Linked DNA regions of Homo sapiens. The protein of the gene in region 3 purifies or fractionates together with the protein of the main gene of each other region. This does not show direct contact. Each region holds a gene or a part of one and is shown on either strand. Other genes may lie near its edges. The genes, in order: PINX1, IVNS1ABP and NOCT.

Region 1 (7,000 bases), on a different chromosome or scaffold from region 3:
CCATTTGGGCTGAGGCTGGCAGTAAGGTGAGGAGGAGTGCCTGTGAGGCAGGAAGTGCTTTCGGGTTGAAGACTATAAGGAATATGCTCGGAGTCAAATCAATGTCTGCAGCAACTCTGCCCACAGAGACTCTGGAAATAAGTCATTAAGCAATCATGCTAAACTTAGGTTTTCATAGTCACCCAACTTCTTCCTTCATACTCATTTATCTCACAAGAAGAGGCTGGGTGTTCTACGCTTTCATGATGGGAGGGTGGGAAACGGCTCCTGAATAAAGAAATCTCCAAATCAGGATTCTACTAATGATCCTAAACTTGGCTGGCAAGGTTCTGCTTGTGCAGGTAACTGAATTACAAACCACCTATAAACAGACCCTGTATTGTCTCGACACAGTGGTCCTCAAAAGCCACCTCAGTGGAATCCAAGATAATGTCCCAGTTGCAGTTCCAGCAGAATCGATATTAATATGTATCAATGGACAATTGGGCCTTCAGTGGCAAGTGCCTCAGACAGCTTTCACCAAGGGGTACATTAAAAAAAAAAATCATGTGGTCAATTCTGGAATTTCAAAATAGGCAGAACATGAAGAATAAATCAACTGAGTTTTGGGAAGCAGTTTTAATTTTATCTATTACTATTCAATTTGTGCTGGAATTCCATAGGGTGATTTTGAGAAAAATAAAAAAAATCTGCCTCAGGAGATTTGTCTTTTTGTTCTTCAAATGTTGAAAAAGAGCTGAAATGCTGCACAGCAGAGTGAAGGATCTTCTCAAGGCTCTCCCGGCACGAGCCAATCCCAGGCTCATGAACAAGAAAGATCCTGCCTCCCAAAGACGGGCACCCTCACAGCCACAGAGACAGGCTCGGTGACCAGGCACCCTCACAGCCACACAGAGACAGGCTCGGTGACCAGGCACCCTCACAGCCACACAGAGACAGGCTCGGTGACCAGGCACCCTCACAGCCACACAGAGACAGGCTCGGTGACCAGGCACCCTCAGCCACACAGAGACAGGCTCGGTGACCAGGCACCCTCACAGCCACACAGAGACAGGCTCGGTGACCAGGCACCCTCACAGCCACACAGAGACAGGCTCGGTGACCAGGCACCCTCACAGCCACACAGAGACAGGCTCGGTGACCAGGCACCCTCACAGCCACACAGAGACAGGCTCGGTGACCAGGCACCCTCACAGCCACAAAGAGACAGGCTCGGTGACCAGACACCCTCACAGCCACACAGAGACAGGCTCGGTGACCAGGCACCCTCACAGCCACACAGAGACAGACTCGGTGACGACGGCTGGCTCGTTTATGCAACAGAAGTCTCACTGACAGTTTCGCAGCACTACAGGAGCCTGCAGTCTGTGGGCCACTCTTTTGGAATGTATTTTTGAGGCTGGAACTCAGATCTGAGTCGAATCCTATGACTCCTTACCTTGCTCATCTATTTATTACCTTGTGAATTCCTGATTTTAATCACCGGAACTAATTGCTGGTATTAATCACATTTTTTATTATCAGGAAATACAAGACCATTTTTGAGTCACTTGTTGAATTCAGCGGGTCTTCGTAACTCCAGAAAGTAAGTATGCTCATATGCTCATCATCAACTTCTGGGATGTAAGTTTAATAGGCACGGGTCACTGCACAGGCTTGGCAGGGCATGGAGACAGGCTAGAGAGGGGCCAGCACCCAAGTCCTACTTCTTCCCAGCAAAGTGCTGGCCACACAATGACTGGCTAGAGAGAGCTGCTTAATGCGGGGGTAGCCACCCTCCCACATCACAGAAACGTGCCTATTTTACAAGACCATGGACTCAAAGGAAAAATACATTGAAAATCTGACTCCTGCAGGAGCAATGGCCAGGACTCATCTTTTATACACCAAAGTCGGAGACTCAGTTTCACTGCAGAGATTCTAATCCTGCTTCTGCATTCTTGACCATGGCATCACATAAAAATAGATACATCTTTTCAAGAAAACTAATGCTTTTACATCTGGTCTCTATCAAAGTAAACAAGTATTGAGAAAACAAGTTACTTTTAAGCATTTTGAAATGACAATAACTTGCATTTTCCCACATTTCCATTAAACACACAATACACCTCAAAAAATAAAATAAAAAAAAATTTAAATGCGACATTCACTGCTTCATAAACGTTGAGAATGTCTGTTTGCTAACTGTGTGCCAAAACCTAATGAAACAAATTTAAGAGTAACTTGAAAACTTCTGGTTCCATATAAAATACTACCAAGAAATATGGTTAATCATCTTGCCAAATGTGATTTAAGCTCAGGGATTCGGGAAATGTCTCTCTCTCTTTTTCAAATTCCAATGCTTGCTGTTCAGCTAAAGGAGGTTTTTGCCACTAATGGCAAAAACCGTGATTACTTTTGCACCAACCTAATAAAATAAGCAGGACTGGCCTAGTCTGTTCACAGCAAGCCTCACAGTCCTCTCCCTTCCTTCAGCGCTAATGAGTGCATCACATGTGTCAAAAACATTTGATGACTGACTTTCCCAAATGGTAAGTGGGCCTTAATTTCTACCCAATCAATAAGTACTTGTGGCTTTGAACTGAGATGACTCTGGAGCACCTGTTCCCCAGTTCACAGAGCCCTGAGAGTTTAAAGCCAGGCCCATGGGATCACCCTGCTCAATCATTTGAGGAAGCTTCACCCAAAGTGATCAGGCCTGGGTGTCCTGAGGAAGGCAGCTATCACCACCGTGCCAGGCACTTGACATCAAGTGGCATCTCAGCCAACTCTTGCTGCAACCTGAGGAGAGGCGTCCTCTCCACATCACACAGGCAGAGAGTGAGACTCCTAGCACTTAATCCGCAGAAGGTCTCACAGCTGGAACACAGCAGGAGAGAGACAGCCCTAAGGCTGCCAGGTGCAAAGCCCTTGCTCCCTGTACCACAGGACCCCGACTCCTAGCTCCCACCTCATGGACTGCCTTGTCACCTTTCCTCTCTCTTCAGAAGCCACCCCAAAACTAAAGTATGTATCAATTGACCACATAATCCAGAGACTAAGGTCTACACTCACCTAAGTTGACTGATGCAGAAAAAATATCCACAGAAATAGTACTTTCAAAAGAGAAAAAAACTACATCATTTTGGTTTGCAATTCATATAAATAAAAAACAGCCTGAAGCCAGGCTTAAAAGAGTTTTATAATTTATCAAACTAGCATGTACATTCACTTGAAAAAGTTTGACTGTTTTAAAGCACAGAGTAAAACCCAAGTCCAAACCTTCCACCCAGGCAAGAAGCCCTCTTGGGCAGATGCTGGACAGCTTCCACCTGGACACTGCCAATATGGAAAGGTGGCTGCTGTGGTTCTCTGACTCAGTTTCCTCATCAGCAACAGGTCAATTCAGGTGGTTCATGGGCGTACACTGTGTGTCACGATTAGAGCTGGAGAATCTTAACGCCATCTCTGGCAATTCCGAATTATCACTGAGGAGAAAACAAAGAGTGGGCACAAAGGCAAGCTGACCCTGCAGAGAGTCCCTGCGGGTATCAATTACAATACACCACAGTCCTCTCCGGTCCCTGAAAGATGCCTGAAGCTACATGTATCAACTCTTCTCGGATGTCTACAGAATTAAAGTCTGTTCTGCTTCTTTTAGGATCCTCCATCTGGAGACTCTGCAGCTACATGAGTGAGTATCTGCGCAAGATCCTCTGGGCTCATGGAGGACTTTGCTCTTGTGTCATTCAAACATGTATACTGAGATGGATTATTAGTACAATGCCCAAATAGAGAGGATTCTCCATTATTCTCAAAAGAATCTTTTGGGGCAAGGAAATGAAGCAGTTTGCACAGAGACCTTAGTGAAGTGCCAGAAGCAGATGCACCTTACTACAGAATCCCCCTACTTATGATCAACATGCCAGTCCAGGAAATGGGCTTCAAAGGCAAGTCTTTCAGCTCGCCAGCCTTGCTCATACATCACTACTGATCTTAAGTGACAGGATGATGGAAGCTTTCTTATTTCCACATTAAGACACGGAGGTCATGCTGCAACAGTAATCCTTCAATGAACTTTGTTAACAAAGTAGACTCCCAGAGATCAAGGGTAATGTATTTAGCAACTGGGGTTGTGAGCCCTGATGGCTATTGCCTGTGATGAACAAATGCTCACTGCCACCACAGCCTGTCTGTCATCAGCCTGTGCTGGGTTAGTCTGTGAAAAGTTAAGAAAGCTTGGCAAGTGAGTGGTTTGACAGAACATTCTGTACCTTTTCCAAACTTTTCAGTGGGGCAGTTCTGACAAACACAAATTATGTCTTCATGTATCCCTTCAGGTATGAAGTGACTGTGTGTGACTCCTCAAAACAAAGGGATTGTGGAGACCCCACCGTCAGCTGTGTGTGTACTTTAAACTCCTCCAACAGAAGGGGCAGGATGAACTGACCCAGTCACTCCCTATGCTGGCCTACGATGTTCTTCCACATCCCCTGTACACAGTCCCGTGCATCACTTTCTTGAAGATCAAGTGTGTGACTGCTTCCTTCCACAAGTCCAATCCCAAGTGAACATCCTTTCTTGTTTATTCCCCATAATAGCAACTTGTTGCTTCTATTTTCTGTATTTGTTTAATTTGCTTTGCTAGCATCTTCCCAAGGAAACAAGTTTCTTGAGGACAGGGGCCATTTATGTTGCATTTGTATTCATACAATCCACAACCTCCCTAATGAGGAACAAGGTACAGTAAGTGCTCAACAAAGGCACAAAGACACCAAACCCAGCTGGACCAAGGCTGTGAAGAGCTCCCACCACCACCCACTGGCCCCAAATGCTTTGTGTTTGTCAGTACGAACTTGTCTGCACATCAGGCAGGTCTAATGTCCAGAAGGGGTGTGGGAGGGTAAGAAGAGAATCAGCATTTTGAGTGCAGATTCCTCCCATCCACATGAAACCACCCCCTTCTCATCAGATAGCACCTTCCCTTGCCTCGTGATGCAAACTGCTTCTCTAACTACTGCAGAGTACATCTGAGTGTCGTCTGCTGTCAGCCAGTTCCTTCCTGGCCCTTAGCAATAAATAGAAACTCAGTCCAGTGATCCATCCATTTCTCCTTCTGCTCTGTCATTCCACATGTTACCACAGTTGCCTTGGAGGGGACAAGTCAATTGGAAAAAAGCAAGGTACTGTGTGGTATGGGAACTGCCACGTTCTTTTTGTGGGATTAGTTGAACACAAGCAATGCCAGTAGAGACTGAACTGTTCTTGCTAAAGAAGAGAACTGTTCTTGGTAAAGAGAAGAGAGTTCTCGTGCATACCACATACAAAGGTAAGCAGCTCATTTGGAGAACAGCAGTGGGATGGAAGTTCCACCAGCAGCCTCTGGTAGCAAGCTGTGAAGGCACAGCCTACATTATATCTTAGCTGAAAACAACCTGGGCAAGCTGATTCTAGGGAGTCATTGAAATGGGTTTGCCACTGAAGGCTGAGCTAGGCAGTGATTCACGGCCGTTCGTTGGAAAGCCTGCCCTGAGCCACTATGGCGGGCGGCCCTGCTCTTCTCTCTATGGAACCTCTGTGGTTTCATGCTTTTCCTTCGTGGTTTCCATGTAACTGAAAACACCCAGTGTTTTATTGATGAACAGCTATTTTTACACTCACAAAAAGCTTTTCAAGTGTGAAATCTTGTACATTTTTCAAGACATTCATCGCTCACATCTGGAATTAGGCTAAACGCACCAAGTCTCGGCAATGAGCAGCCTCGGGGAATTTGCCTGGGAGACACAATCAGTTTTAGCATTAGCAAGTATCACAAGAGTCAAAAACAAATATAAAACCCCATTGACTGAAGAGAGTTGTGATTTGAAGTGGTATTAAAAAGCAAAGATACAATAACAGAATGAGAATTATGCAGCAACTCAATTGGAAAACACAGAAATTGTGTGTGCGTGCACATGTGAAACAGGTGTAAGAACCTGTGGCATGTATTAGAAGCCCACTCTGCAGGGGTTCCAGAGGGTTCTCTCTAGAACAGAGACTGGTGAACTATGGCCGTGGGCCTAGTTTTTAATGATTTTTTTTTTTTTTTACCATTTCTAAATGGTTAGGAGGAAACAAAAAACTATTTTATGACATGTAAAAATTACATGAATTTCAAATACCAGTGTCCTTAAAGTTTTGAATTTCCTCAGTAAAAATCTTGTAAAAATTTGTTTTCTTTCTCATTATACAAGTACATACAATAGGTGCTAAGTAAATATTTACTGAATAAATGTATTATAAAATCGGCTCTGTGACTGTGAATACAATACGGCTGACTTTTGGAAGTGGCAGGTGCTTTTCCAGTGCACACACACAATATACCTTTATATACACACATGTACATATATACACGTATGGAACTGGAGGACGCTGGGCTTTGACAAAGTCCTCAAGCTCTGTCTCCTGCCAACGACAGAATGCCTACCTTTCTGAACTGTGTCAGCAAGCAGCAGAGAGGCTGCTAACTGCTGCCTGCTTTTGAGTAGCAAAAGCCAGTAAAGAAAAAATTTGTTTAAAAAGTGATGTGACATCAAAGAGCACTCTCAGCAACCCAGTAAGTATGCAGAGATACCTTTCTAATATCAGGCATCAGAACTCCGCTTGGAAGTTACAAACTCAGACACACCGGACATTGGAGAAGATAATACGAACTAGAAGGGACAGAATAGCTTGGCTGGACTTTAGTAGAGAAATACACAGAATGCCAAATTCCTCATATGAAGGCCAATGGTAACAGAGCTGTTAATTTTATGTCTTTTTATTTTTATTTTTTCCCATATGCCTAACCAGCTATTCCGATTGCCACTTATTAGGAAAAGCCGACATAAACATGTTTTAAAAGGATGGTTCTCTATGGCAACAGCTTCTCAAGTAATCAACATCAGGATCACTGACAAGAGTCATCCAGCCTCTGTGGAAAAAGAGGAAAGAGAAAGAGGAGCAGGCTTCCTGCCTCCCTGAAAGGCCCTCAGGCTCGGAA
Region 2 (7,164 bases), on a different chromosome or scaffold from region 3:
TGCTGGGCAAGCAAACATTATCTTCAAGCATTACCTCCAACTAGAATTGGGAAAAACAATGACATGGATCAGTGTTGGGCTCCTAGTTCTCAGCTTAATTCCCAATTTCATAATAAAGTTGTCACAGATGCACAATTCATTCCATACATTTACTCTAATTTGTAAGGAACCAGGAATTTGTAAGGAACCAGGAATTTGTAAGGAATTTGATTACTGAATCAAAAACAAAGTAAACAAACTGGTAGGGAGAAACCCATTACGCTGCTAAGAATAACAATATAATTTCAATGTATTATTTCATAATCATTACTCACTTGCTTGAAACACAGACCAAGATTCCACGCCTGGAACTAGATAGTATATATCTGTTTATAGACTTTACTCCTTACCTTTAGCCTTGGAAGCTTAAGAAACTCCTCCTCTTCAGAAATTTGTAACAAATGCTCCTGAATATAAGCATCAACCTTATTCAACAAACGGGAGTCTCCCATACAACTTGCAAAATTTCGGTAAGAGATGCAGCTGGTAACATCCATTCTAGACAGTAAATAATCACCACAAACCTTGGAAAAGAAATATATGAGTGCCAACACTTACATATCTTTTATTCAACAAATATTTAATGTTCAGTGTGGTAAAGACTATGTGAAGATACAAAGAATCAAAAATCACTGTCTTAATACAACAAATGTTAATAGTGGTAATAACACGTATACAAATGATAAACATCTAATTATGCCATACAGATATGTAAGTTTTAGTTTAAGGAGAGGTACAACAAATTGAAATGCTATGTAAGTTCACATAAGTATTTTCAAGTAGAATAATTTGGTAAGGCTTCATGAAACGCAGTATCTGAACTGGGCTCTACAGGAGAGATGATGTTGATGTTGAATGCAGACAGAAGTAGAGAAGATGCTGCAAACAATTTAATTTGGTTGGAGAAAAGATAACTAGGAAATAGTTTTGGAAAGACAGCAACTATATAAGGGAAAATCTAGAAACTAAATGCAGGGATATGTACTGTAAATTAAGGAAGGATTTTTGAACAAAGGAGTGGTATTAGAAGAAGGGCTAGCAAATCAAACTTTTTCTTAAAGGGCCAGATAGTAAAAGCATTTTAGGCTTGTAGGCCATTCTGTTTGTCACAACTGCTCAATTCCGTCACTGTAGCTGGAAAGCAGTGTAGACCATATGTAAATGAACACACATGGCTGTGTTTGAATAAAACTTTATAAAAATAGGCAGCTGGCCAGTAGGCCTTAAGTTTACTGACCCCCATGCATTAGGGGATTAAATGCCTGTTTTCCAAAAGTACTTTTTACTGGCATTAAATTCTAGAAGGAATACTTTTAGAGAGCACAGGAAGTTTAGGAGAACACAGAATTGAGGATATAAGTTATGTGATTAACTCTTAAGAAAAATATTAATTTTAATTCATGCTATCAAAGGCTGACATAGCCACCCTACCAGAGAAGATTGCTGAAAGGGTCAGACTTCAGCCCAAATTATCTGAGAAGAAGTGTGATCTTGCTACATTATTATAGCCAAACAGTTAAAATAACATATTGACTACTCTGAGGGAAAAAAGGGACATGTTCAAGTCCTTGAAACTAACAAGATGTTTTATGACAAATTCAGCATTGCAATCACACAAAATAAGACTCCATAAATGATTTTATTTACTTCTGATACTCTACCTGCTTTACTCGATCCATCTTCAGCTTTTTTGCTGCAGAATAAACATCTTTTACCAATTCCTTATCTGCTTTCAACCTATTTAAAAAAAAAGTTACTTATGATACCAAAGCCTTAAAACACACTTAATTTAAATATATGTAGCAAGACTTGGAATTTTCTGAAGATATTCCCTAATTATATGGTTTACTTCAAATGTACTTACTGAGCAGTGTAGGCATAATTCAACAAGACTTCAACAGCTTCTGGATTGAGATCATCAAATTTAACGTGAGAAATTCCATGAGGATCACTATCACTATTAAAGATTTCAAATAAATAGGGACTGCAGCAAGCTAGCACTGCTCTGTGTGCTAACATTTCATGGCCACAGACCTGAAATTATGAAGAATTATAATTATAAGTATTGTGGATTATGTGCTTCTCTAGCTAATTACTATATCAGATTCCTTTATCTTACATTTCTCAGTATTCTTTTAAAAAATCATTTCATTAAATGCCTATGAAAAAGAAATAAGCAAATCTAAGAACTTATGGCTTTTAGTAATAAAAAATTCTATAAATTTTGAATTAAGTTTTAAATACCTGAAGTCGAACATCACAGAACTGGCCACTTTTCCTCAGGGCATTTAATTTGGCAACAGAAGACTCAATAAAATTTTCATCCTCAAACATCAAATATCCATTGGGAATCATTTTTCCTTATAAATTTGGCTAGATGATGAAAAGAAAGCTGAGTTATTTTACTTGCAACTGATGGTTTTAAAAATATAATGCTAAAGAGTAATACAGTCTCTTTATTCTCAAATTCCATCCTATAAACAACACATAAAAATTTCATCACACAAAAACTTAGCTGAAACAACACCTGTGTTGAATGTCCAAGTCTTTGTTCCCTAATACTTTGGTCATAAGACTTTTAAAGGATTCAAACAGTAGCAGCTATCTCGACAATTTTGGCCAGGTTCCCATGCCCATTAAGCAAATTCATTCTGAAGGGAAGGGAAGGGAAGGAAACGAAACTCCATCCTGCCCAAACCCATATAATAAGTAATCTAAAAGCCTGAAAGGGTGAAATAGCCAGTACATATAGGTTTCCTTGGATTTGGGCTCCTGTCATTCCTTTACCCACAAATGAGAAAAACTGTTACTTATCCTAATCCTAGCCTTTTTCAGTTGTCTTAAAGGGCCCCCAATTTGCTTCTAGTCTTCAAAATTATATATAATCAAGATTTATATGCAGAAAATTGCCTAATGTCTTCCTCCCTTGCCTAGTACACAAACTTAAAAAGTCTGATTAGTCTTGTCACTGTATCTACGAAATTATTTTTATAAATGTTTTGAAACATATACAGTGATTTAAAAAGATGAACTTATATTCTGTTCCTTTCTTTCATATATTCTAAATCACTTATCTCATCAGATTATATAAATATAAATGGGAACTTACAACTTTTTTGCATTTTACCATTACTTATAAACAACTGACTAATGACTACACAAAATGCATAATTAAAAAACAGTGATAGGCTGGGCGCTATGGCTCACACCTGTAATCCCAGCACTTTGGGAGGCCGAGACAGGTGGATCATTTGAGGTCAGGAGTTCAAGACCAGCCTGGCCAACATGGTGAAACCCTATCTCTACTAAAAATACAAAATTTAGCCAGGCATGGTGGCGGGCGCCTGTAATCCCAGCTACTTGTGGGGGCTGAGGCAGGAGAATTGCTTGGGAGGCAAAGGTTGCAGTCAGCTGAGATTGTGCCACTGTACTCCAGCCTGGGCAACAGAGAGACTCCATCTTAAAAAAATAAAATAAAATAAAGAACAGTAATAGGGAGGCCAAGGCAAGAAGATTGCTTGAGCCCAGGAGTTTGAGACCAGTCTGGGAAACATAGTGAAATCCTGTCTCTACAAAAAATGTAAAAATTAGGCAGTCATGGTGGTGGCGCACACCTGTAGTCCCAGTTACTAGGAAGGCTGAGGCAGGAGAAGCACTTGAGCCCAGGAGTTCCAGGCTGCAGTGAGCTATGATCCCACCACTGCACTCCAGCCTGGACAACAGAGATCTTATCTCTTTAAGGAAAAAAAAAAAGGCAGTAAGAAATTTTAATTTGAAGTTACTGATTTATTTAAAGTCAAAATATAGAAAAGAAAAATATGATGTTTTTTATACTCAAATGATTACTGACTTCTCTGCCTTTAAAAAAAGAGTATGAAAGGTTTACTGTACTCGACATCCGTCTTCAGAAAAACAATGTGTCTTAATACTGGACTAGGCAGAGAACATTCACTTACCTACTCTGTTGGTGGCAAATGTATTTCTGGGAACTCTTAAGTAATCCAAGGACAAAGGAGTGTTAAAAGGTGCACTTCGTCAGGGTATGAAGACAGGTGGTTGAAATGAAGGCAGGTGTGTCTTAAGCTCTAATGGTGATTCCAAAACTATCAGGCTTGAAAATGATGTAATCAAGTCCTTAAAAGCTATAGACACGAATTTCTTCTGTGATAATGATGCATCATAATCTATAACAATGATAAATTTAAGTTAGATATTCAGAATAATCAAAGACTGTCATTGATCTAGGTAGAGCAGATCATGTAAAACAAGTCCTGATCTTCAAGAGATTTGACATAAATGGCAAAAATATTCCCATTACATAAAAAAAGAACACAAATGCAATTCCACATAAACATTTTTCATTTAACTTGCAACAACCCAAGTGATTAAAAAAAAAAAAAAAAGTCCTTTCCCAAAGGGCAGGGGCTAATGACCTATGTTTATGAGAGGTATAAAAGCACAAGACTACAAAACAAATGTCAATACTGTTTAATTCTAATATTCTTTATTATTAATTTCCAACTAATATGCAAACATGAGATCTGTTTTGAGCCAGCAAGCAACCTTAGGCATTATTCCCAAGCATATATACTATGTTACTGTTCCTCAAAATGAACTCTGCACTTCCCAGGCTCTGTTAACTTTGTTCAAGTTCTTCTCTCTACCTGGAAGGCCCTTAACCCAACCTCTGCCAGAGGAAATCTTACAGCCATAGAGCCTCTGCCAAATGCTCCCAGTTGGGAAGCAGTTTCTCCTCATCCTCCACATTTAGAACCCTATCTGAGGGGTATTTATGATCTTCCAGCTGGTCTGTTTCATGCTGTATTTATATTCATGCTGTATTTATATATACTTGTTTATCTTCCTTGACTCATGGGCAAACCTTCTGTCTTGTTCATCTTTTGTATCCATCCCATCTCCTCTCTACCAGGACTAGCCTAAAAACTTGAACATAAAGATGAGTAATTTGTTGGAATAAACTAAACAGAAGGGAAAATACTGATGCCTGTGCTTTGTATAATCATTTTTCTCATACACAGTAATAAACTACCAATGGAATCATTCTGGTTCAAACCTAATCTTCAAGGTAATCAGTCCTCCTACCTATTCTCCCTCCCTCATTTTCACATCATCAATTACTAGTGTCAAATTCTGATGGTACTTATTTTGTAATCACCTGAACTGCTATTACACCACTATTAACTCTGGAAACCAGAACTAAGGAATAACTTACCTGAAATACGTGCAAATATATTCATTTTTATGGATATCTTAAGATTATTTGCCTTATACATCAATACAACAATTCTAAATCTAACAATTACGTCAAAGTGAATAATCACTTACCACAGGACTCCACTGCAGGCTGGTCCAGTTCGAATTCAACAAACCTACTATGTTTAGTTCAACATGTGTCCTAACAGGTCTCTCTGTAACAGGTTTCATTTCAAGGAAACCCAATAATGCCAATTCGGGTTGGGATTGTTGTGAATGCTTACCCTTGCATCAAAACTATATCACAGCATTAGGTAATATTGATTTCCTCTGCTCTACCTTTTATCTAGGTTAGTTAATTTGGCTTTTCTCTAAGAAACTAGTTCTAACAAATGTTTTCCAAATATACATAATTCTTTCTACACAGAGAGAACACACTATCCTAAAGAAACCTTCAAACATTTTCAGCCAAGACCTGGCTCAAACTAAGAAAATTTTCATATATATATGATTTATACTGGCATGGTCAATTCACAGGCATAGTTGGCAACTCCTAACTTCAGTTTCATAAGCTGCTCTTAAAATAAGAGGAAGGAGTCCCCATGCAAATTGTTATATTAAAATGCATCCTCTGAAAAGCCAAAAACATTATAATATGAAGGTACTATTTTAAACTTTGACCAGTTTTACTCACTTTTTACTTGTAAACTTGATCTAACAAAAAATAAAAATGGTATCCACTTACTATATTTGACAAATTGAATGATCTACCTAAAATTTATTTTGGAAAAAAATGGTTAAAATTACTGCAGCCCTTGGAGAAAACACTGGAGAATTTTTGGGGCAATTTGCATCAGACAAATTTGTACAATATTATTATGAGTTTTGCAGTAAAATGAATCCTGTATTTAGTGCTTGATTTTTATTTAGTTTTTACTCTAATTCCATGACAGTACCTGATTTTTAGTACATCAAGGTCATAATATGAACCTCATCTCTTTAATATCTACTGATCAGAGTACAAAGCTACTTGATTTTAAAAGCCAGCCCAAATCTAGATGACATTTAAGTTAATGCAAACTTACTTTATTCAATTATTGTCCTCATACACTATATACCTACTTCCCGCCCACCTCAAGTTTGGAGGGGATCAGATCAATTCCTGTCTGTAAAACCATGTTTTTGAAAGTTCCTATTTACTTTCATTAAAGTGAGCTAGGGCAAATCAAGAGTTTTAAACTACTCCCCAAATTGACGGGAGATCTTATTTGGTCTATAAAACTCAAGCACGATAACTAGTGGAATTAAAAAATGGGGAAAATTGTTTTCTTTGAAAATCCAAACCAAAAGTCCAGACATCCCAGAGTCATATAAGAGTATGAAACGTAGAATTGTTTGGTGTTTAAAATACACTTTCAACTAAATCTACACCTAGGTCACTTTTCTTACACATTTAAAATTAAAACTAGGATCAAATACAATATATTCAGATAAATTCAGCATACTTCTATGGCCACTGCAAGGGATACCGAAGACTCATAAATGAGTAATTAAACTGCTTTAATAACACCCAGAAGTTCACAGCCCGGAAAGATTAGCTTAAGTGAAATACAATTCAACAGGTCTTATCAAAGAGTTGTTAAAAAGGTAGGCACAATATGGCCTCTGCTAAAATTTTTCTCTGGCCTTCAGTAAGACCAAGATAAAACAAAAGACAATCGTTTGAGGGCAGTCAGCTCCCACCAAGTAGCCATCAGCTGCATTTTTAAAGGAAAGACTTTATAATACAAAGTAAATCAACACATCTTTTTAAAACCAGAAGTTACAGCTTTCCAAAGTAACCTCTAAAACCACCATCACCATCCATGTATATGAAAACTCGCTGAACTCATTCATTCTATCCATGCTCAT
Region 3 (7,409 bases):
CTGCTTTCCTGCACCCTTGTGCCATTTCCAAGTCAAGAGAATAAAAGGTGTTTCATTTCATTAAACAGCCATTTCATTGTGCAAATCTCATCTCTTACTGGGCAGTAAACTCCTTAGGGACTGACTAAAGCTCATGTTTTTAACTCCCATAATAAAGCACCTACATTGTGTGAGACATTCTGTAAAGATCTGGAATGAGTGAACAAGCAATGAATGAATCAATGCAGGCATGTTTCTTCCAACAAGCTGCTGAAGCTAAAAATGCATGAACAGGAAAATTGTCTAGACTTTATAGTAACTGCCTACAAAAGTTTAAGTACCATAAAGTCCTTCAATTTCCTTATCTGTAAAACTAGGGGGTTTCAGGGGATTTCTTAAAAGAAGTTCATTAAACACTTTCTTGGGTCAAAAGCCCAACATTCCAATCTGACCTGATATTATTACTCAGATAACAGTAATTACTCAGATAACACAGCCATCTATGTTTTACACAAGCTAACAGTATTCCCATGAGGAGGTACCTACTAACCCTGCCTCTGAGACTTTGAGGGAATTTAAGATATAAGCTGGTACAGAAGACATCACCTGGTTTTCTTTTACTTTTCCTACCTCAAACCTCTAACAATGTTGTTCTTAAAATTTCCAGCAAGAAAAAAGTTATCAGGCAATATACTCATTCTGGCAGTTATTTCACAATGTACCACATTCCTACGAAATTGGGGGTGGGGGTGGGGAATCTAACTGTCAAGTTCACTCTAAGGAACAATATAGTTCAGAATCTCCAGCAACCAATTCAACATCCTAATTTTAAAATGACTAAGTTGGGCATGGTGGCTTCCACCTGCAAATCTCAACTGCTCCAGAGTCTGAGGATAACTCGAGGCCAGGAGTTTGATACTAGATTGGGAAATACCTAAATATCTGCCAACAATGCGAATAGTTTAAAGTCTTGGCTTCAATCACATTCCAGATGACCATTTTTAAAATATATACATTTTTTAAAATTTTTATTAATTTTGTTTTGAGACGGAGTTTTACTCTTGTCACCCAGGCTGGAGTGCAATGGTGCGATCTCGGCTCACTGCAACACTCCGCCTCCCAGGTTCAAGTGATTCTCCTGCCTCAGCCTCCAGAGTAGCTGGGATTACAGGCGAGTGCCACCACGCCCAAGCCCATTGGCCAGGATGGTCACGAACTCCTGACCTCGGGTGATCTACCCGCCTCCGCCTCCCACAGTGCTGGATTACAGGCGTGAGCCACCGCGCCCGGCCTATTTTTTTAAATTTTATAGGCCGGGGGGGCGGTGGCTCACGCCTGTAATCCCAGCACTTTGGGAGGCCAAAGCGGGAGGTTCACCTGAGCTAGGGAGTTCGAGGCCAGCCTGACCAACATGGAGAAACCCCATCTCTACTAAAAATACAAAAATCAGCCTGGCGCGGTGGCGCATGCCTGTAATCCCAGCTTCTCGGGAGGTTGAGGCAGGAGAATCGCTTGAACCCGGGAGGCAGAGGTTGCGGTGAGCCGAGATCGCGCCATTGCACTCCAGCCTGGGAAATAAGAGCAAAACTCCGTCTCAAAAAAAAAAAAAAAAAAAGTTATGTATTGCCTAGTTTTGAAAGAAAAAATTTATCAATTTTTAAAGTATAATTAATTTGTATGTAATTTGTGGCCATGGTAATGTGTGCCCAGGCAGAAACAGAGGTAGCAAAAAAGGAAAACTCAGGGTAGTTATTATGATGTATGAAAACAGCTCTTGGTGAAACTAAGGCCTCACTTTTACAAGATCTTAGATACACAGGACAAAAAATGATGTTAACTATAAAGAGTGGAAGCCTCCAAAAAAAAAAAATCCAAAGAAACGTAAAATGGCCGAGCGCGGTGGCTCACGCCTGTGATCCCAGCACTCTGGGAGGCTGAGGCGGGTGGATCACGAGGTCAGGAGTTCAAGACCAGCCTGGCCAAAATGGTGAAACCCCCGTCTCTACTAAATATACAAAAGTTAGCTAGGCGTGGTGACTGGCGCCTGTAATCCCAGCTACTCGGGAGGCTGAGGCAGGAGAATCGCTTGAACCCGGGAGCGGGAGGTTGCGGTAAGCCGATATCGTGCCACTGGACTCCAGCCTGGGTGACACAGTGAGACTCCATCTCAAAAAAAAAAAAAAAAAAAAAAAAAAAAAACAACGTAAAACGAATCAATGTGTTATTATCACGACTTAAAAAAAAAACTTAATATCTAGACCATGAAAGCTATATAAGCAAATAAGCATCATTTAGATTTTTTTTTCCATAAAAATTTCCGTTAAGTCGTGCAATAAAAAATGTAACCAACATAGTAACTCGCGGCCTCGGAAGGGGGAAATTTAACGGTCAAGAACAAGAAATTCTGAAAGCATGGCCTCTAAGGGTCAAGCGGGAACCTGAATACAGTCTCCCAGTTCTTACTAGCTTTGATGCAAGCCCCAGGCAAGTCGGGGAACAGGGAAAGAGGAAAAAGGGAACGCAGAAGGTTGCTCCGGTAAAGGACCCACTTTCAGGCCAGACTCCACGACCGGCAGCCCCGGGCTTCTCATTCATTCCGCGCGGTCTCCAGGTGGCGGCCGCGCGTTGGCGGCCGTGGCGTTCTCCGCCCGGAACTGGGGTGCACTCACCTGTTCGGGAACACGACCTCGCGGCGCCCGAGGCCGCCGAGGCCGCCGCCAGCAGCCGGGGGGATGCGGGCCTGGGAACAGCAGCCGGCGGGGACAACGGGCGGCGCAGCCCTGGGGCGGGCAGGCGGCGCAGGCCGGGCGCGTCCCTCTGCAGCAGGGCCGAGCAGAGCCGCCGCGGACTATGAAACATGCCGGGCGCCGCCGCCACCACGGCCCCTCGCGCGCCCGAGGAGCGGAGCCCGGCTGGGGCCGAGGGCACCGAGTCGAGCCGACTGTCCGGGCAGTGTGGGCGGATGCTCCCAGGCTCCTTCTCGCGCGGCGCAGGTTCTGGGGAAATCCCGGGCAGCAGAGCCGGAGAGGGAGGTGCAACACCGCTGCGTCGGCACCGTCTGCTGTGAGACCTGGCGAGACCTGCAGGGCGCCCGGCGAGCGCTGCGCGCTGACAAAGCGGGCGCTACCAAGCGGGAGCTGGAGGGGAATCCGCGGGACCCGGCCACTGCGCGGCCACGCCAGGCTCCCTCGACCCGGCGTAATCCTGTTTTAAAAGGAAGCGGGGCTTAGGCTGATTTATAGATAGAATCCGCAGGCGGTCTAAAATAAGAGGTATCCGTTGGAGCTGTTCTGAAGAAAAAAGCGTCCCCTTCCGCTGGCCAGCATGGAAGCGCCCACAGGCTGGGAATCCCGAGACAGTTCCAGGGCTGTGGCCCAGGGGACACGTGTCTGTCAGAGTGGCAGACGGCCTACGTGTGTGCCTGCGCGGGTCTGTGTGGATACAGCAAAAGGCGTCCGCCTCCGACCCCCTCGGCAGTGTGTGATGCGTTAAACGATATTAAGCACAATAAAGCACCGCCTGTGGGCGAGGCGACGATGATTAAAACAGCGTTCTTTTCCTCAAAAGTGTTATACTTAGGCAAAGGGAGCAGAAGGTGGCAAGGGAAGTCAGACCAGAAAGCTCTACAAGGTAGAATGAGATTATTGCCACAAGATGCCAAAGATTGGCTATAGAGATGACAACAGGCCCGGGCTCTCTAGAAGGTTCATTAGAAGGATTGGCATTTGAGTTGGCCTATGACGTGGAGGTCTAGAATTTACCCACGTGAAACTTTGGAGGGGGTGGTGGTGAGTTATAAATGAAAAAAGTAAATAAGGGTGTATTTGGGGAAACAACTCTTAGTCATGTAAGATGGAAGCTAAGGAGTAAGAGGACAGATGCGTGGATAGGTTGTAGTGTGGAAGGAAGGGGATTATAGTAGGCTTAATTCGGTGGATAGCTGCGAGCCGTTGACGTTTTGTAAGCTGAGCAAAGACATGGTCAGGGCTGTGCTTTAATTGGAAATCACATGTCTCTGGTTCATGAAAAGGCAGAAAGGAAATCAGCTGAGATAACAGATACTGTAGACCCGCACCAGGTTACTGTTACTGGAAAAGAAAGGATGGAAGAAACATCTCAGACAGGCTGGGCAGGAAATGATGACTAATCAGGAATAGAAATGGGATGAGGGGGAGGGAAAACCCAAGACTGGATTTTTCTCTGAATGATTCATGAGTTAGAAATGTATTCTATTGGTTTTCCCATGATTTTGCTGATTCCCCTGTGTTGTGGAATTGCAAGCTTTTCATCACAAGAATATTCTAAATATTTTTCAGACCTAGGTTACATATCTAACACCTGTGGATAGAGGGTGTGGACAGATCAGCTGGCACAAGTTGATTACAACTTCTGGCAGACAAGCTCCTTGGAAGTCATTAAAGCCTCAGTTTCAGTTTCCTTATCTATAAAACATAGAATCATACCTTAGTCATTAGGTGAAATAAAAAATGATAATAAGCTACTCTGGGCACACTGTCTATCGAGTAGTCCTGCTCCACAAGGAGCAGTACTTGTAAAAAGAATTTTTTTAAAAAGGTGATAATAAAATTAGCCTATGAAAAGTGTTTTGCAAATATAGCAAAATGTTGATTTTGAATCTAGGTAGTGGGTATATATGGGTATAGGGACCATGGGAAAAATGTTCCCTTTGCCCTCTGAAGTTTGCTGAAAAATCAACTCACAAAAGGCAGATTAATGGGAGAAAAGGCATATGCATTTATTAACATGTACATGGGGAGAATCACAGAGTGATTACACACCCCCAACGGGGTTCAGAAGCTTGTCTACCATCCTGGCCAACAGACTTGGGGAGAGGGGAGCAGAGGCATTCTGTTGAGGAGATGACTAGGGAAAGTGAATGGATCAGGGCACAGGGATGAACTTGCACATTATCTTGTGAAAGGGTCTGTTCAGGTGGTTACATTTTTGGTCTTACAAGGAGGGGAAGAAAAAACAATTGTTCCTTTTGGTGGGTTCGGATTGTAGCCAGATAAAGGAACTTCAACTTCATCCTGTGCTTTGGGAGAGATGGTGCTGGGCAGTGAGGTCAGAGAGACCTTGAGGCTTCCATTCAGCCGGTCAAAGCCCCATATTTTGGGCTATCAGTTTCTGAGTCCCGACACAAGTGTTCACTTACAATTATTTTTCCCCCATATATTTGGAGATTTTCATAATAAAATGTTGGGGAAAAGTGCTTTGAAAAATGAAAAAATAACTGTTCAAATATAAACTGTCACTATTTAAAGAGATTCAAAGAGCATGCTATCCTGAAAGTGCATCATATTATTTATTTTTTTTTTATTTATTTATTTGAGATGGAGTCTGTCGCTCTGTTGCCCAGGCTGGAGTACAGTGGCGTCATCTTGGCTCCCTGCAACCTCCGCCTCCCGGGTTCCAGCCATTCTCCTGCCTCAGCCTCTGGAGTAGCTCTGACTACAGGCGCACACCACCACGCCTGGCTAATTTTTGTATTTTTTAGTAGAGACAAGGTTTCATCATATTGTCCAGGCTGGTCTCAAACTCCTGACCTCAGGTGATCCCCTCGCCTCAGTCTCCCAAAGTGCTGGGATTACAGGCATGAGCCACCACGCTCGGCCTGAATCATATTTTTTATAATATATTAAACACTAAGCAATCAGAAAGATAGAAATTAAAACTTATTCCCTTGAAAATTTATTCAGTAAACATTTGTTGAATACACATTATGTGCCAGGCTCTATATTAGAGCATACAAAAATAAATTGAACAAAATCTATTGACAGTTTAGGGGGTAAGACATTGTATAAACAAAAATACTTGTAATTATCTGCTAATAAGTACAGAATCACTTATGGACAAAGTATTGTGGGACCAGAGAAGAGGAAATGTTACTGGAAAGGGGTCCCAATCCAGACCCCAAAAGAGGGTTCTTGAATATTACACAAGAAAGAATTCAGGACGAGCTCATAAAGTGAAACCAAATTTATTAGAGAAGTAAAGAAATAAAAGAATGGTTACTCCATAGGCAGAGCAGCACTGAGGGCTGCTTATGGCTTTTTCTTTTTCTTTTTTTTTTTTTTAATTGAGATGAAGTCTCGCTCTGTCACCCAGGCTGGAGTGCAACGGCACGATCTCGGCTCACTGCAACCTCCACCTCCCAGGTTCAAGTGATTCTCCTGCTGAGCCCACAGAGTAGCTGGGATTACAGATGCGTGCCACCTCACCCAGGTAATTTTTTTATTTCTATTTTTAGTAGAGATGGGGTTTCGCCATGTAGGCCAGGCTGGTCTCAAACTCATGATCTCAAGTGATCCACCTGCCTCCCAAAGTGCTGGGATTACAGGCGTGAGCCACTGCGCCCGGCCTTGTTGGCTATTTTTATGGCTATTTCTTGATTACATGCTAACTAGGGAGAGGGTTATTCGTGAATTTTCCAGGAAAGGGGCAAGGATTTCCCAGGACTGAGGATTTCTCTGCCTTTTAGACTATATAGGGTAACTTCTGGATGTTGCTGTGCCATTTATAAACTGTCACGGCACTGGTGGGAGTGTCTTTTATCATGTTAATGCATTATAATTAGCGTACAATAAACAGTGAGAACAACTAGAGGTCACCTTCATCACCATCTTGGTTGTTGTGGGTTTTGGCTGGTTTCTTTTTTTTTTTGAGATGGAGTCTCGCTCTGTCACCCAGGCTGGAGTGCAATGGCACGGTCTCGGCTCACTGTAACCTCCGCCTCCCGGGTTCCAGCAATTCTCCTGCCTCAGCCTCCCGAGTAGTTAGGCCTACAGGCGCATAGTAGTCCTACGCGCCTGGCTAAATTTGTATTTTTTTTTAGTAGAGACTGGGTTTCTCCATGTTGGCCAGGCTGGTCTTGAACTCCTGGCCTCCCGAGTAGTTAGGACTACAGGCGCGTAGTAGTCCAACACACCTGGCTAAATTTGTATTTTTTTTTAGTAGAGACTGGGTTTCTCCATGTTGGCCAGGCTGGTCTTGAACTCCTGGCCTCGTGATCCGTCTGCTGAGCCAATGCGCCCGGCCGGCTGGTTTCTTTTTCACATCCTGTTTCATCCGCTGAGTCTTTATGATCTATATCTTGTGCTGACCTCCTATCTCATCCTGTGACTAGGAATCCCTAACCTCCTGGCAATGCAGCCCAGTAGGTCTCAGCCTCTATTCAACATAGAGTTGCTCTGGCTCCAACACCTCTGACAGAAATAACTAATTGCCTAGAGAAGTCAGGAGAGGCGTTTTGAACAAAGTGACTACCAAGTGGAAAGGTATCACAGAGGATATCCACAGAGAAGAGAACACTAAGGCGAGGAAAGAAGGCGTGTTCCAGGAACAGCAAGTGCTGCAATCTGATAAGGGTTGAGTGCGGGATGTCCATAGGGAGTGGCCGCAGGTGAGGT

What was found.
Region 1: the proteins of NOCT (region 3) and PINX1 purify together in Homo sapiens (affinity purification with mass spectrometry; 2 studies listed by BioGRID and IntAct, with this or other methods). This does not show direct contact.
Region 2: the proteins of NOCT (region 3) and IVNS1ABP purify together in Homo sapiens (affinity purification with mass spectrometry; 2 studies listed by BioGRID and IntAct, with this or other methods). This does not show direct contact.

What each region holds. Positions count from the first base shown.
Region 1 is NC_000008.11:10,766,876-10,773,875, forward strand, and holds part of PINX1 (PIN2/TERF1-interacting telomerase inhibitor 1), read right to left. Parts: intron 6,036-7,000; exon of another isoform or gene 3,641-6,035; intron 1,586-3,640; exon of another isoform or gene 1,525-1,585; intron 1-1,524. UniProt on the Homo sapiens protein: Microtubule-binding protein essential for faithful chromosome segregation. Mediates TRF1 and TERT accumulation in nucleolus and enhances TRF1 binding to telomeres. Inhibits telomerase activity. May inhibit cell proliferation and act as tumor suppressor.
Region 2 is NC_000001.11:185,307,100-185,314,263, forward strand, and holds part of IVNS1ABP (influenza virus NS1A-binding protein), read right to left. Parts: exon of another isoform or gene 5,386-7,164; intron 4,224-5,385; 5' UTR 3,996-4,223; intron 2,413-3,995; 5' UTR 2,395-2,412; coding exon 2,284-2,394; intron 2,074-2,283; coding exon 1,904-2,073; intron 1,777-1,903; coding exon 1,701-1,776; intron 564-1,700; coding exon 390-563; intron 41-389; coding exon 1-40. UniProt on the Homo sapiens protein: Involved in many cell functions, including pre-mRNA splicing, the aryl hydrocarbon receptor (AHR) pathway, F-actin organization and protein ubiquitination.
Region 3 is NC_000004.12:139,011,411-139,018,819, reverse strand, and holds the start of NOCT (nocturnin), read right to left. Parts: upstream 3,040-7,409; 5' UTR 2,839-3,039; coding exon 2,649-2,838; intron 1-2,648. UniProt on the Homo sapiens protein: Phosphatase which catalyzes the conversion of NADP(+) to NAD(+) and of NADPH to NADH. Shows a small preference for NADPH over NADP(+). Represses translation and promotes degradation of target mRNA molecules.